Homo sapiens: one gene and its partner. The protein of the gene in region 2 interacts with the protein of the main gene of each other region in a pairwise test. Each region holds a gene or a part of one and is shown on either strand. Other genes may lie near its edges.

Region 1 (7,055 bases), about 12 Mb from region 2:
TCTTGTTCTCACACATCTGTCATTTAGTTGGTCACAGTTGGGCAGGTAGAAGCGGGTTAAAAGTTTTAAAACTCATAATAATCGTGTCCAGAGATAAATGAAGGCTGTTGTTAACAAGCATGACAGAAAAGCCTGGACCAGCTGTTTTCTCCAAAAAGCCAGTGGAAAGGGGGTCCTGAAGAAGTGACAAAAGCCATCCTACAGGGGGGAGAGAGAAAAGTTAGATTGCCTCATGATGCTGAGAACCTCACTCAAAACACGCAGGAACTTCCAGATTAAACAGCAAAGTAAAGTTTGGATTTAAAAAGTAAAAGGAAAGGAAATTCTGACCAATACACATCCAGTAATGAGGAGCCCCTGAGGAGTGAGGATTGGTAAGTCTAACAGAGTGAACAGAAGCAAGCATTTAACTTTGTCACTTGGTGCAGGAACACTCATATCTTGACTCAAAACCAAGAGGAAGGTAGCTTATTATGCTCTTTTCTGAGCAAAGAAGAGATGCCTTTTGGGAAACTGTCAAGTCACTAGATTGAAAAGTTATCACCTGACACTACAGCAAGCACCAACCCCATTTAGGAAGGGAATTGAACTCCAGGCTGTGGCATTTTAACTGCAATGGGCAGAGACAAGGGTGAACTATGTTTACCCAATTTGAGAATTTCAGCTTTTTTTTTTGAGACAGAGTTTCGCTCTTGGTGCCCAGGCTGGAGTGCAATGGCAAGATCTCAACTCACTGCAATCTCCACCTCCTGGGTTCAAGCGATTCTCCTGGCTCAGCCTCCCTAGTAGCTGGGATTACATGCACCTGCCACCGTGCTTGGCTAATTTTGTATTTTTAGTAGAGAGGGGGTTTCACCATGTTGGTCAGGCTAGTCTTGAACTCCTGGCCTCAGGTGATCCACCTGCCTTGGCCTCCCAAAGTGCTGGGATTACAGGTGCGAGCCACTGCACCCAGCCAAGAATTTCAGCTCCTTGGTGTTAAGAGATTATTCTTTCATCAACAGTGATTAGCCAAAAACAACAAAAAAAGGCTTCAACGGCCCCTTTCCAATTCTAATCTCTTCTTCAGGTACAGAGAGCCCGGAGGGGCCAGATGCCGTATTGAGACAGGGCTCAGGTGAGGCTCTTAGGCACGCAGCTGAAGGGAGTTCACCGGCCCAGAGGGTTGAAGACCAACACTAACATTATGAACAAGGCAGGAGTTCCTGCTAACACACCTCCCACTCCCTTTCCCTTCTCAGATAGAACCCAACTTGTCACTATAGAAAGTCTAAATGGGGGCCAGGTGAGGTGGCTCACGTCTGTAATCCCAGAACTTTGGGAGGCTGAGGTAGACAGATCACGAGATCAAGAGATCGAGATCTTGGCCAACATGGTGAAAGCCCATCTCTACTGAAAACACACACACACACACACACACACACACACACACACACACACACAGTTAGCCAGGCTTGGTGGGGCGCGCCTGTAGTCCCAGCTACTCCGGAGGCTGAGACAGGAGAATCCTTGAACCCGGGAGGCAGAGGTTGCAGTGAGCTGGGATCCACCACCGCACTCCAGCCTGGCCACAGAGCGAGACTCCGCCTCAAAGAAAAAAAGAAAAAGGTCTAAATGGAAACTGCCCCCAGGAGGCTACATTTCGGATCAAAAAACTTGCTGGTTTTAATAGTTTGGCTATAGGTATCCGATAACATGGGCCACTTCAGTCATTGAATCAACGCCAATAAGGTGGTGGGGAAAGAAATGGGGTCTAGCTCAGAGCCCCCAGAGGCATGCAGTGGGCTCATCACCAGGTGGCTTTCCTTGATCATCAGCTGCAGGGCAAGGGCCTGTCCCTCTAACCTTGACCACAGAGATGAAGGCTTGCAGCTGAAAGCCAGGGGCCTAGAACGTTCTCACCGAGGACTGGGTGCAGAGGACTAGAAATTAAGGAACCTTGGGTCAGCGCCACCACTGGGCGACCACCACACTCCACAACCTCTCTGGCCAGGCTGAGAGGCGTAGGGGGTTGTGATCAATGGGTCTGAGTCTCTCCAAAGGCGCATTTAATAGGCGAAGGAGAAAAACACCCCACCTGGCTGGGGCCCCGCCATTGCTGACTTCATTGGTTGGGGATTTCTATAGGAGCAAAACGTTCAGACCTAACGTGGGTGCCCCCCTAAAAGTCCCCGACGGCTAAGGCCAGGGCAAGGTCCAAGTGAGCAGACCTAAGCCTGCGCAGCTGCTTCGGAACGGTTCACGGCCGTCTAAGAAGGCCGATTTCTGCCGGCCTTTCTGCCAGGGGAGGAGAAACCCCAGACTTCACAGCGAACGTTCCAGGCCCGCTGAAACGAGCCTTTCTGCTTTCACGAAACCTCGTTCCAGGGGCCTGGCGCGGTGGGTTCCTCACCGTGCCAGCCTCGTGGGCGCTTCCCGGCTGCCCGTCCCGCCCCGTGTCCCGGTGTCCGCCGCGTGCTCACCCAGCCGCCCTGAGCCTGCAGCCAGGCGCGGTGCTGCCCCATGAGCCGCGAGCTCAGCAAGGCCACCAGGCGCTGGCAGTCCCGGGCGACGTCGCCCTCCTGCTCCTTTAGCCGCGGCTGGAAGCCCCACTTCTTCCACCGGGCGGTCACCAGCGGCCCTCTCTCCAGCAGCGTCCCTGCGAAGGTCACGAGCGTCACCACTCTGCCCCAGGTGGGGCCGGGGCTGTCGGAGAGCACGGAATCCGCCATCAGCGCCACCAGCTCGAAGCGGTTCCCGGGGTAGCCGAGGTAGGCGGAGAAAAAGGACCGGTGAATCTGCCGTAACCTGGCGGCCGCGGAGCGCAGCACGGCGGCCTCGGGCGTGGATGGCGCCGGCTCGGGGGTGCCGGGTTCCCGGGCGCAGTACCCCAGGTAGTCGGCCAGCAACAGCTCGGTGCGCTCCCGCAGCGGGTCGGCCATGGTGGTGCGCTCCCGCAACTGGTCAACCATGGTCCGGCCTCTGCTGGGGGGCCGGGCCTTCGCTGGTTTTCTTGGCCCGGCCGCGCCTCCCCCAGGGTAGGGCTGCCGTGCCCCGCCCCGGCCCCCGGCCCCCGGCCCCCGGTATATTGTTTTTCAGGACTGAGAGAAGAGCCTTTGATGGGAATCCCACCTGCACCTGTTCCAGTCCCCAAGGCAAGGCCTGGTGGTGCGCACGTGTTCGCGTAGCAATCAGATGCACTGTGAGACTCGGGTTATTTAGCTCCAGTGGCGCGATCTTGGTTCACTGCAAGCTCCGCCTCCCAGGTTCACACCGTTCTCCTGCCTCAGCCTCCCGAGTAGCTGGGACTACAGGCGCCCGCCACCATACCTGGCTAATTTTTTTGGATTGTTTAGTGGAAACGGGGTTTCACCGTGTTAGCCGGGATGGTCTCGATCTCCTGACCTCGTGATCCGCCCGCCTCTGCCTCCCAAAGTGCTGGGATTATAGGCGTGAGCCACCGCGCCCGGCCATCTAATATTTATATTAAACTTTCTCAGTTCATATTACTCCGTGGCTTCTTTCTCCTGATTGGATCCAGACTGATGCAGAATGGATACTAGCAGTGGTATTTCTGGGGGTTCAGGGGTCTGGAGCATGTTGAAATAGCCCTCCCAGGGTGAAAGATGAGTTGCTGCATCTTGCATCACTACAAAAGAGGCACGGCACTTGGCAGCTGTCTTAGTCTGTCCAGGCGGCTATAGCAGAATGCCATAGACTGGGTGACTTATAAATAAAGGCATTTATTTCTCACAGTTTTGTTGGCTAAAAAGTCCAAGGTTGAGGCCCTGGCAGGTTCTGTGTCTTGTAAGGACCTGCTTCCTGGTTCATAGACAACAGGCTTCTTGCTGTGTCCTCACATTGCAGTAGGTGTGGAGTAGCTTTCCGGGGTCTCTTTTATAAGGACAATAATCTCATTCGTGAGGGCTCCACCTTTGTGATCTAATACCTCCCAAAGGCCCCATCTCTGAATACCATCACACTGGGGGTTAGGATTTCAACATATGAATTTTGGGGGACACAGCCTGGAACAGTAAGCCATTTTGGACTTTGAAGGCAACATATACTGTGTTTGTGCTATTTCAACCCAATTGACAGGCTGGTGGATTGAGGAGCAGAATAAGAGAAGACTCTGCAGAAGGTTCAGGCTGCAGTAAAGCTGCCCTACCACTTGGGTCTTGTGATCCAACAGATCCAGTGGGACTTTGTCCAACAGGGATGCTGTATGGAGCCTCTGGCAAGCACTGACAGGAGAGAGTACAGACCTCTAGAATTCTAAAGTAAATCTAGAACCTCTTCTGAAGATAACTACTCTCCTTCTGAGAAGCAGGTTCTGCCTTGCTACTAGGCCTTGATAGAGGCAGAATGCCTGACCATGAAGCTTGAGCTCCCATCATGAACTGGATGTCATCTGACCTACGTAGCCATAAAATTGGATGTATACAGCAGCCACCTATCATCAAATGGAAATGGTGTATTAGAAACAGCCCAGGCAGGTTCAGAAGGTATAAGTAAATTGTATGAGCAGGCGGCTCAGACTCTTCCAACATCAACTCCTGTTGCTTTGCCTCCTCTCCCTCATTCTACAACTATGGCTTCTTGGGATGCTGCCTATGTCCAGTTGACTGAGGGAGAAAAACCTCCAGCCTGGATTATAGATGGGTCTGTATGATGTGCTGGTACCACATGAAAGAGAACAGCTGCAGTATTCACTCACACTCACTCAGGGGTGACTGTGAAGGGCAGTGGTGAAGGAGAATCCTTCCAGTGAGCAGAAACTCAAGGCTGTCCACTATGTCTGGAGTGAGAGATGGCCAGAATACAGACCTAAATTGATTCATGGACAGTCGCTGATGGTTTAGCTGGATGGTCAGGGCCTTAAAAAGAACAGGACTGGAAGATTGGTGACAAGAAAATCTTGGAAAGAGATATGTGGCTGAATCCCTCCGAATGGGCAGACTGAAGATATCTGCATCTCACCTGAATGCCCACCAAAGGGCATCCACTGCAGAGAAGACCCTGAATCAGATGGACAGAATTACATGCTCTGTGGCTGTCAGCCAGCCTCTCTATGCAGCTGCTGTGGTGTCTGCTCAACGGGCCGATGAACAAAGAGCTCTTGGCAGCAGGGACAGAGGATATGTATGGGTCCAACAACATGGAATTCTCCCTCCAAAGGCTGAGCTGGCTGGTGCTTCTGCTGAGTGCCTAATCTGCCAAAGCAAATGATTTCTTACAGTGAACTAAATAAGTGTTGTTAGAATATAAATTTCTGTACATCAAATTCCCATTTGAACTGGTTTTGACGTCTTACTGGTTTCCTTATTAATCAGTGAGTTAAAAGCTTGGATACATGTTCATGTTTTATTTGCAAGACAGTCATGATTTTACCTTTTTGTACATTAAACTTTAGCAGCAAGAACATTGTTTTCTCTTAGATTTGCAGTAGCTTTGGGGTAAATGATAAATCCTCTGGAACTGCCATTGGTAACTCAACAATGATGAAAAGAACTAAACAACAAATGAATAAATTAACCTCAACATAGAATTTCCAGTCCACACAATATGAGGCAGTTTGTAATAAGACTCGGTGAAAATCCTGTCTCTGCAACTTGGAAGCTGTGCAGCTATGGGCAAGTTATTCAACTCTCCTAACCTCAATCTCCCCATCTAAAAATGGGGCATCACGGGGCTGTCACAAGGATTACATGAATCGGTATATACAAAGTGCTTAGCACAGTACCTGGCACACAGTAAAAGGTTGTCACTCCACAGAAACTTTTATTTGTAAATGGTAAATCCTCTGGCAACGGTGACTATGCTCACTTGCCCCATTATCAGCCAAAACCAAAATGTGACAATATTGGTCTTACCTATGTGGTTTCTGTTTTATTGAGAATAGCTAGTGACTGCTTATTATTTTTTCCACGTTTTAAGTAACAGCTTTATTGAGATGTAATTCATATACCAAAAAATTCACCCTCTTACAGTCCAGTGGTTTTTAGTCTATTCACAGAATTGTGCAATCACCACCATCTAATTCAGTTCCCCCCGGAGAAACTCAGTGCCCACTAACCGTCACTCCTCACCCTAGCCCTAAGTGACCACCAATCTGCTTTTTGTCTTTATGAGTTTGCTTATTAGGACCTTTCATATACATGGAATCCTACAACATGTGGCTCTTTGTCTCTGGTTTCTTTCCCCTGGCACAATATTTTCAAGGTTCATCCATGTTGCAGCATGTGTCCACGCTTTCTTTCTTTGTATTCCATTCTGTGGATGCGCCATATTTTGTTCATCGATTCATCCACTGTGGAACATTGGGGCTGTTTCAGCTTTGGGCTATTATGAGTAATGCTGCTATGAACATTTGCATTCAAATTTCTGTGTGGACATATGTTTTAATTTCCCTTGGGGAGGCTGCCAATTACCGTGGAAAACACACAGGTTGGAAACAGTGACCTCTGCTTCATGGTTCCTGGTTTCTGACAAAGTTAATCTTTCACCATTGGTGTGCTGGTTAGATAACCTTGGGTTCAAAGACAGACATTTCCTGTTGTCACAGTCTTTACATAAACGCTCATACCATACTTACGATTAGTTGTTTATGTGGGTTAAATTAACCATGGAATCACTCCTGATCCCATCTCCTTACTAGAGGGTCTGCATCTTTTTTTCTGGTCCTATTTTTAAAAATAATGATCTTTAATTGACACATAATTGTATGTATTTATGGGGTACAGTGTGTTATTTTGATACATGTATACAATGTGTAATGATCAGGGTAATTAGCATATTAATCCCTTAAATGTCTATCATTTGTGTTGGGAATGTGAAAGTTGTTAGAATTCAAATAGAGTCACTAGTGTTTTAAAAAAACAAACCATGACAAATAGAGCTGGGGAGGCCATGAAGAGGGGATTCTCATGCTTGTATGCCTAATACCAAAAATGATCACAAAAGATTCTGCAAAAATTACAACCTTGCACATAGGCTGCTGCAACCTCACACAAAAATTACTTCTGCAAAGACATCTGCCTAGCAACTGCCTGTCCAACCTCGGACTGGTGTGACCT
Region 2 (7,059 bases):
GGGGAACTCAGCCTCTAGTCTGCCACGCTGATGACTCAGAAGCTAAATATAGCGAGCGATATAAACAGAGCCAGCCACAGAGCAAACACAGGGCCCCCAGCCCCGGCGCTGGCTCTCACGCACTCTGGCTCTCCGCAGTCCCTCCCCCAGCCTCATTCTTCCCCTGGCACTGTCCTAGGTGGGCCTCCCACTCCTGGGACAGAGGCTGGCTTCCTAGGGACCCATCTCACTCTATAGCAAACCTCTGGGGCCCCTGCCCGGGGCTGTCCCATCTAGACGCTGAGCAACCTAGTTAGCCAGCTTAAGTTCCAGAAAACCACTCACTAATAACTAGAGAATCCCAAAGTGTCAGGAAGCAATCAGGGGCTCCCTGAACAAAGGATCCAGTCTGCTAGGCAGAGAAGCTGCTAGTTAATAAACCATGCAAACACCAACTCGGGTACAACTTCCAAAAGAGCTCCCCAAATTACAAAGTCAGGTCCAAGCAAAATCCTAAAGTCATCTTTTAACATATTTCTAAAAGTACTCAACTGTCCCTGACTTAATAGTTATTTGTATCACAACTCCTAAAGGCCCTTCACATCAACTAGGCAAGGTAAGTATTAGAAACCAAGACTAAGCCGGGTGCAGTGGCTCACACCTGTAATCCCAGCACTTTGGGAGGCCGAGATGGGCGGATCGCCTGAGGTCGCGAGTTCAAGACAAGCCTGACCGACATGGAGAAACCCCGTCTCTACTAAAAATACAAAAATTAGCCAGGCATGGTGGTGCATGCCTGTAATTCCAGCTACTCAGGAGGCTGAGGCAGGACAATCACTTGAACCCGGAGGCAGAGGTTGCAGTGAGCCGAGATCGCACCACTGTACTCCAGCTTGGCAAGAAGAACGAAACGCTGTCTCACCAAAAAAAAAAAAAAAAAAAAAAGGCTTGGAGAGATTACATGATTTGCCCACGAACACATAACTTATAAGTGGCAGAGCTGGGATTTTAACAGATCTGCCTACAAGTCTAGGATCCTTTTTGTGATATTACAGCTAAAGATGGTTTCAACTGAGTGGCTGAAAGTTTTCTCAGATTTCATTTGCCAAAAAGTCTAATTACTATTCAGAGATTTCCAAACCCGGCTTTTCTGAATGGAGCCACTCCTGGTCCAAGTGAAAAAGCCATTTCCAACATGAAGAATTCCAACCCTCCTGTAGCTTTACTCACTCGACTGTTTACAGTAACTACTGTTTTTGAGGATTCTTGGCTTCTTAACATTGCCCAGAAATACCCCCAAATGTCATGATGGGCCACTGGGACAGAAGACTCTCCCAAGGGGAGGGGATACCACTTCCTGCCCCTCCTTAGGCTCGTGCTGAATGAGGCCATGGCACAAGGACAGGAAAGCTGGGGCTCAGACCTTCTGGCCAGGGCAGCCCAGGGGCTCAGGGAGGAAGTACATCTGCACCATGCTCTTCCATGCAGAAGCTGGACACAGAAGCACCACAGCACCACCCTCAAGATAAGTCATTATCAGCAGACCATCGGGGGTCCCTGCCACAGTTTGTCAGCTCACAGAGGAGCAAACAGGGGAACCTTCACTCCTGCCCCGGCCAAAGGAAGGTGGGATGTGTGGTGAGGTTCTGAAAGGTTTTTACCTCCACTCACTCTGCCTCCAACTCTCTTGCTGCTTTGGAGACACAAAGAGCTGAGGCGGAGCACCCTGCTAACTCTGATCTTCTGCCTCCGGTTTTTTGCCTGTGGATCTGGAAGAGTCACCCTGAACTGGTAACTCGGGTGACCAGGCTAGTCCTCCACCTAGCAAGGCTCTTGGGAAATGCGCTGAAAGTGCAGATGGCCCACGTAAAACGACACCCAGGGAAACTTGGAACCTGTTGCATCTGGAGCCAGGTCGATACACTCAATTGGGATTTCATGGCATCAGCACGCCCCCTCCCTCTGCTCCATACCTCCAAGGGAGAAGGTCGTTCTGGTGCAAAAAAACGAGTAACTCAGGTCTGTAACCAGGGACAAAAAGGGGGAGTGCACACTCTCCACAGGACTATGGACCAGTGGCCACTGTCTAGCCCCAGGACACTATCCCAGATGTAGGGGAAAGGTGACGGTCAGGCCTCCTCAAGTCCCATCTGCCTCTAGGGTTGCTTTTCTTGGCTCTCTAAATCCAGCCCGCAATGATGGGGAATGACTATCATTCCCTGAAGAGAAATCGATAAGGCCAAGGTCCACAGATGATCAGTCTGGACACTAATTCCTCTGGACCAGGCAGGTGGAGGGAAGTTCAGGGGAGGCAGCTCTGCTCAGGGAGTCCCCTGCCAGGTGGAGTGGGAAATGAATTGTGAACCAACAAGAACAAACGTCGGGGGTGATCAGGATCATAAACAGAAAGAAGGAAACAGGCATTAAAGAACATCTACTGTGTGTCCCAAACTCTCATAGGTATTTTCTCACTTAATTATCACAGTAAAATTCTGTGGTATTAGCACTAATTCATAGAAGAGGAAATAGGCTCAGTGAAGTCAAGTGACTTCCTGAAAACTAGTAGATGGCAGAGCTGGTATTCAAACCTGGGCTTTCTGACTCTGAACCCAAAGCCTAGAAACTAAATCCTAAATAACCTCCTTCCCACTGCCTCAGTTTCTCTGCCTGCAAAAATGAGGGAAGGGAATAGGGAAAGAAGATAAAGGATAAGAATGGAGGAGTGACAACAGTACTTTCTAGATATGAAATCTTAGACTGTAGTTTATATAAGAATCAAGCTTAGAAAATGACTCACTTCTCAAAACCAGCTGCTGAAACGTTCCAGGAGTACCAGTGTTCCACCTGCCTGAAGCCATCACCTTAGCCCTTCCTGCAGGATGAGTTCCTGGTGAAGGTCTATAAGTAGGGTCAGTGGGGAGGAGGGGGTTAAAAGCAAGAAGACTCTGGGGAGAACTGTTTAAGGAGAAGACAAAACCCTGGCTCTTTGTACTGGAAAATTTGGGAAAACCAGCTCTTTGAGCTAGAAAAGGCTCACTGGTCAGCCTCCTACCCTTGTAAGTAAGAAGTAGGTAGATGGCAGGAGGGTAGGGGTACAGGAAACCTGGGAGCCAGTGTGGAGTAAGGTGCAAGGCAGAGGAGACTCTCATGCCTTGCACCTCCACTTTCCTTCTCCCCAGCTTGGGTGGCTCTGGCTAAAAGCACAACACCTTGTCTAAAACTAACCTGTGCATGCAAAGAGGCAGCTCTGAACTGGGAGAAGTGATGCCAACCAGCAAAAAGCAGGGCAAGGCAGGCGCAGTGGCTCACGCCTGTAGTCCCAGCACTTTGGGAGGCCGAGGCAGGTGGATCATCTGAGGTCAGGAGTTCGAGACCAGCCTGGCTGACATGGCGAAACCCCGTCTCCACTAAAAGTACAAAAATTAGCCAGGTGTGGTGGTGCGTGCCTATAATCCCAGCTACTCGGGAGGCTGAGGCAGGAGAATCGCTTGAACTGGGGAGGCAGAGGTTGCAGTGAGCCGAGATCATGCCACTGCACTCCAGCCTGGGCGAAAGAGCCAAAAAAAAAAAAAAAAAAAAAAATCAGGGCCAGACCTTGGGATAAGGGCCTCCTCCTCCTCCTGTTCAGGACCAAGTTAGGAGGGCCCCCAGGACTGTATCCTAGTCCTGTGCCAGGGAGGGCTCCCGGCCTATTCCCAAGCCTATAGAGGCTCACCAGTGGATGGGGGAATATTCTGGGGAATAACTGGTGAAAGAGATCAGATTATTGCAAATGAAGCAAGCTGCCTTCCACGGAGCCCGCTAGATGAGTCTAAAAGAGCCACAGCCACTGTGTCCTCCCATCCTCTCCAGTACCAGGACTGGAAGCTGTGAGCTGGGCTCAGCCGTAGGCCTGTACAACCACGGTGGAGTGAATGGGCAGGAAGGAGGCCAAGAAACTGAAAACAAGAATCAGAGTGAGTCCACACATGGACTGAAGGGGAAACTCGAAGCCAAGTTTCCACCAAATAATCAAAGGAGAGAGTAAGAACTGGAGCTTAGATCTATTATCTAAGCATAGGGCCACCCTCCCTTCCTGATCACTAAGGGACTGGGAGGACTTACCAGGCCCAGACCTGGCCCCAAACTGTCCTTAGAACTCCTTGGCAGAGGGCACTAACCATATGTAACCCGCAATGTCCTGTTCTTAGGAAAGCCAAGGTCAATTCCTCTTCCCCTGGCACTGGTAATGGTTTGACCCTTAAGTCAACCTACCAATAGCTCTCCTCCGACCACCTGAAGCTACCCTTCTAACCTCGGAGTCTGCCCAGTCATGGTCAAGCTATTTATTCCCTTGATTTCCTCGCAGTCAGACACACAAACACACATTCAGAGCCAGCTGGGCTGGGGACACAGTCCCAGAAGTACAGAATGTGTTCGCTTCCAGGTGGCATGCCTGTGCTTCAGCTGTGGCTGTACCAGCACGGATGCAGCCTCAGGCTCCTCTCCCAGCCTTGGCAGCCATCCAGAAAGCCAGCCCGAAGAGGAAGGGTTAAGTGCCTGGGGACCCAGCCCAGACAGCGGCTGCTGGAACAGGGAAGGCAGCCTCCAGGCCATGGCACAGAGGGCTCCTCCAGCACGAGCCTGCCAGCCGCCGCCTTTGTTGATGGACTCTGCCACATGCTCGGCTGACACGTGATGCCCCGCCCTGGCGGGGCTGGTGCCAGGCTGCCGGCCAAGCGCCCGGCTGAGCGCCCGGCTGGCCGCCGGTCTGGGGAGCCTCTCCGAGGTACACTCTCCGGAGTCCCAGACCCTGGTTCCCAGACAGAGACAGTGAGGAGCGGCCTCCCCAGCTGGAAAGTGTCAGGTTTCAACCGGTTCCACCACTTTCCCCAACTCAGGCCCCATCCCTTGGCCTGGTTACCCGTTTCCCACTGTACCTTAGCCAGGCACCCCCCAACTGCCCAGTTTCATTGCAGCACCCGGAAAATCTTCCTCTTAGGTCCGTGAGGGGCAACCCCTCAGCCACGGCCATAAGAAGAGACAGGTTGTCAAGCAGAGCTGCAGAAAGCCATCCTATTCCCAGACTGTAGCCTCTCCCGAGAGGGCTCTTATGGAACATGAATTGAGACTGGGCAGTTAACCAATGTGGAGCTCAGAGATGAGGGCAAGATGCTTAGCCAGTTAGGCCCCTCCTGCCCATGGGAACCGCCATAACCAAAACTCTGGGACAATATCCTTGAGGTCTGGCAGAGACAGAGTTGCTGACAAGAGGAGAGAGGCAGGCCCTGGCCCCCAAGCCCCAGCAGACTCAACCCTCCTCCCCTAAACCCCCGTGCCTACTTGCTGCACATGAAGCCGGTGGAACTGGTCTGCAATGCACTGAAGCTTTCGGGCAATCTGTACCTCTGCTTGATGTTGCCACTGCCCTTCGGGGGGCTGCTCCCCAATGGGCAAGACTGCTGGGAAACTGGCAGGGAGAGGAAGCCGATAGCCAGCATTGCCTGCAAAGATAGAGGATCCACATCTCAGCATTCTCCACAACTGCTCCAACCTCCCTACGCCTGCCTGACCTGGCCAAGATTGGAGGCTGAGGGTAAATCCTCATATGAGAAAGGATAGGAGCCAGCCTGCCTCTATTGGAGCACTCTGCCAAGCTTGGACAGCCTGCTGCCCAAGTGCATAAAAGTTGCAGAACAGAAAGAATGGCCCCAGCCTTCTCTTCGCTTCTCCATTCACTGACAGTGCCATGACAAAGGGCAGGTGGTAACGTGTGCAGGCGAACATGCCAGCCTTCCGTCCTTATTTATCAAGCTACCCTTAACCACAGTTGGTTATTCACGTAGTAGCAGGTTGAAGCTCTTCTCTGGAAAAGCACTGGAGGTAGCTCTCCAGTTTCTGGGTTGAGCAAAGTAAGAGGCAGAGCAAGAAAAAATCAAAAAGTGTCTTCACTTTTTTAGTGCAGTAGAGTAAGGCTGGTCTCCCGAAGCTCCTGGGCAGCAGCACAAAAAGAGGGAGAGAAAACTGAGACGCACAGAGCTGCCAAGTTGCTCTCCGGAGACAGCCCCAGGCAAGACCTCTAGACCAGCGCTCCACACTTACCCAGTGCACGCGTTAGAACCACCGCTAGGGGCGCCAGTCCGCCGGGCTCCTCGCTCCTTTCCCTCTTCCCCGCCTGCCCGCCTTATCCAACTTCTCAGACTCCCGCCAGAACTGCTTTGCCAGAACTGCCCTAAGGGGCAGTTCCCTCTGGGAGTAACTGCAGTGTCTCCTCAATCAGCTCGTCAGACACAGTAAGCCACGCTCCTAGCCTTTACCCTCCCTCCATAAGCTGCAGTGCTAATAGAAGAAAACAGACTGTCTAACCCTGCCCTTTTGCCAGAGGAGGGCATATTTCTCATAAAACAAACTATTTAAGCCCACAAATGAAGGGGTCTTGTCTTAGCCTTGGAAGCATCCCCTCTCCTGGCATTGGGCCCAGGCAGGCCCAACCTCTTTCTCCAGTTCCCCTTTCACACACAGAAAGTCCCATGTGGCAACTGGGGGCCACCTTCTGCCTTTGGGAACCCTCCCTCCCAGAACCGGCTGGGTTTTTCCCTTCATTGTCAACAGCCAGTCACAGATCCCCCAGACTTCTCCAGGGCAACAGGAGCCACTTTATAGTAGGCAAGTCACTGCTAGGACACTAAAGGCCAGGCCACTCAAGGGGCACAAGATGTAAAAGGAGATACCATGGACCCAAGGATCCCTCCAGGAGGGGACAATTTGCCCTTTGGGGGGTCTGAGGCACAGGTGAGGAGCAATAACAAGCCGAGAGGCAGCAGGTGGAAGTCAAGGAATCAACAGCCCCGCTGATCACTTTGGGGGAAGGAAACAGCAAAGGGCAGGTTTGGGGAGGGAAAGTCCCCTCTTTTCCCCCAGTCTCTATGGGAGGAGTCTTGAGGCTGAGAGCACTCACCATAAAAGAGTCGCTGGGGTTCCTCAGTCACCCCACAAGGCAGCATGACACCTTGGCTGGGGGAGGCTGGGCTGAGAGTCTGGGTAGCTTTGTCTTCCTGGCTGGTGGGTCGAAGGCCAGGGCCACAGCAGTGGGTGAGAGGG

What was found. The genes of interacting proteins can lie anywhere in the genome.
Region 1: the proteins of BMF (region 2) and BCL2L10 interact in binary tests that used the Homo sapiens proteins (3 or more experiments, as listed by UniProt).

What each region holds. Positions count from the first base shown.
Region 1 is NC_000015.10:52,109,776-52,116,830, forward strand, and holds the start of BCL2L10 (bcl-2-like protein 10), read right to left. Parts: upstream 3,001-7,055; 5' UTR 2,952-3,000; coding exon 2,463-2,951; coding exon of another isoform or gene 2,393-2,462; intron 199-2,392; coding exon 73-198; coding exon of another isoform or gene 32-72; 3' UTR 1-31. UniProt on the Homo sapiens protein: Promotes cell survival by suppressing apoptosis induced by BAX but not BAK. Increases binding of AHCYL1/IRBIT to ITPR1. Reduces ITPR1-mediated calcium release from the endoplasmic reticulum cooperatively with AHCYL1/IRBIT under normal cellular conditions.
Region 2 is NC_000015.10:40,098,879-40,105,937, forward strand, and holds part of BMF (bcl-2-modifying factor), read right to left. Parts: coding exon 6,917-7,059; intron 5,463-6,916; coding exon 5,302-5,462; intron 1-5,301. UniProt on the Homo sapiens protein: May play a role in apoptosis. Isoform 1 seems to be the main initiator.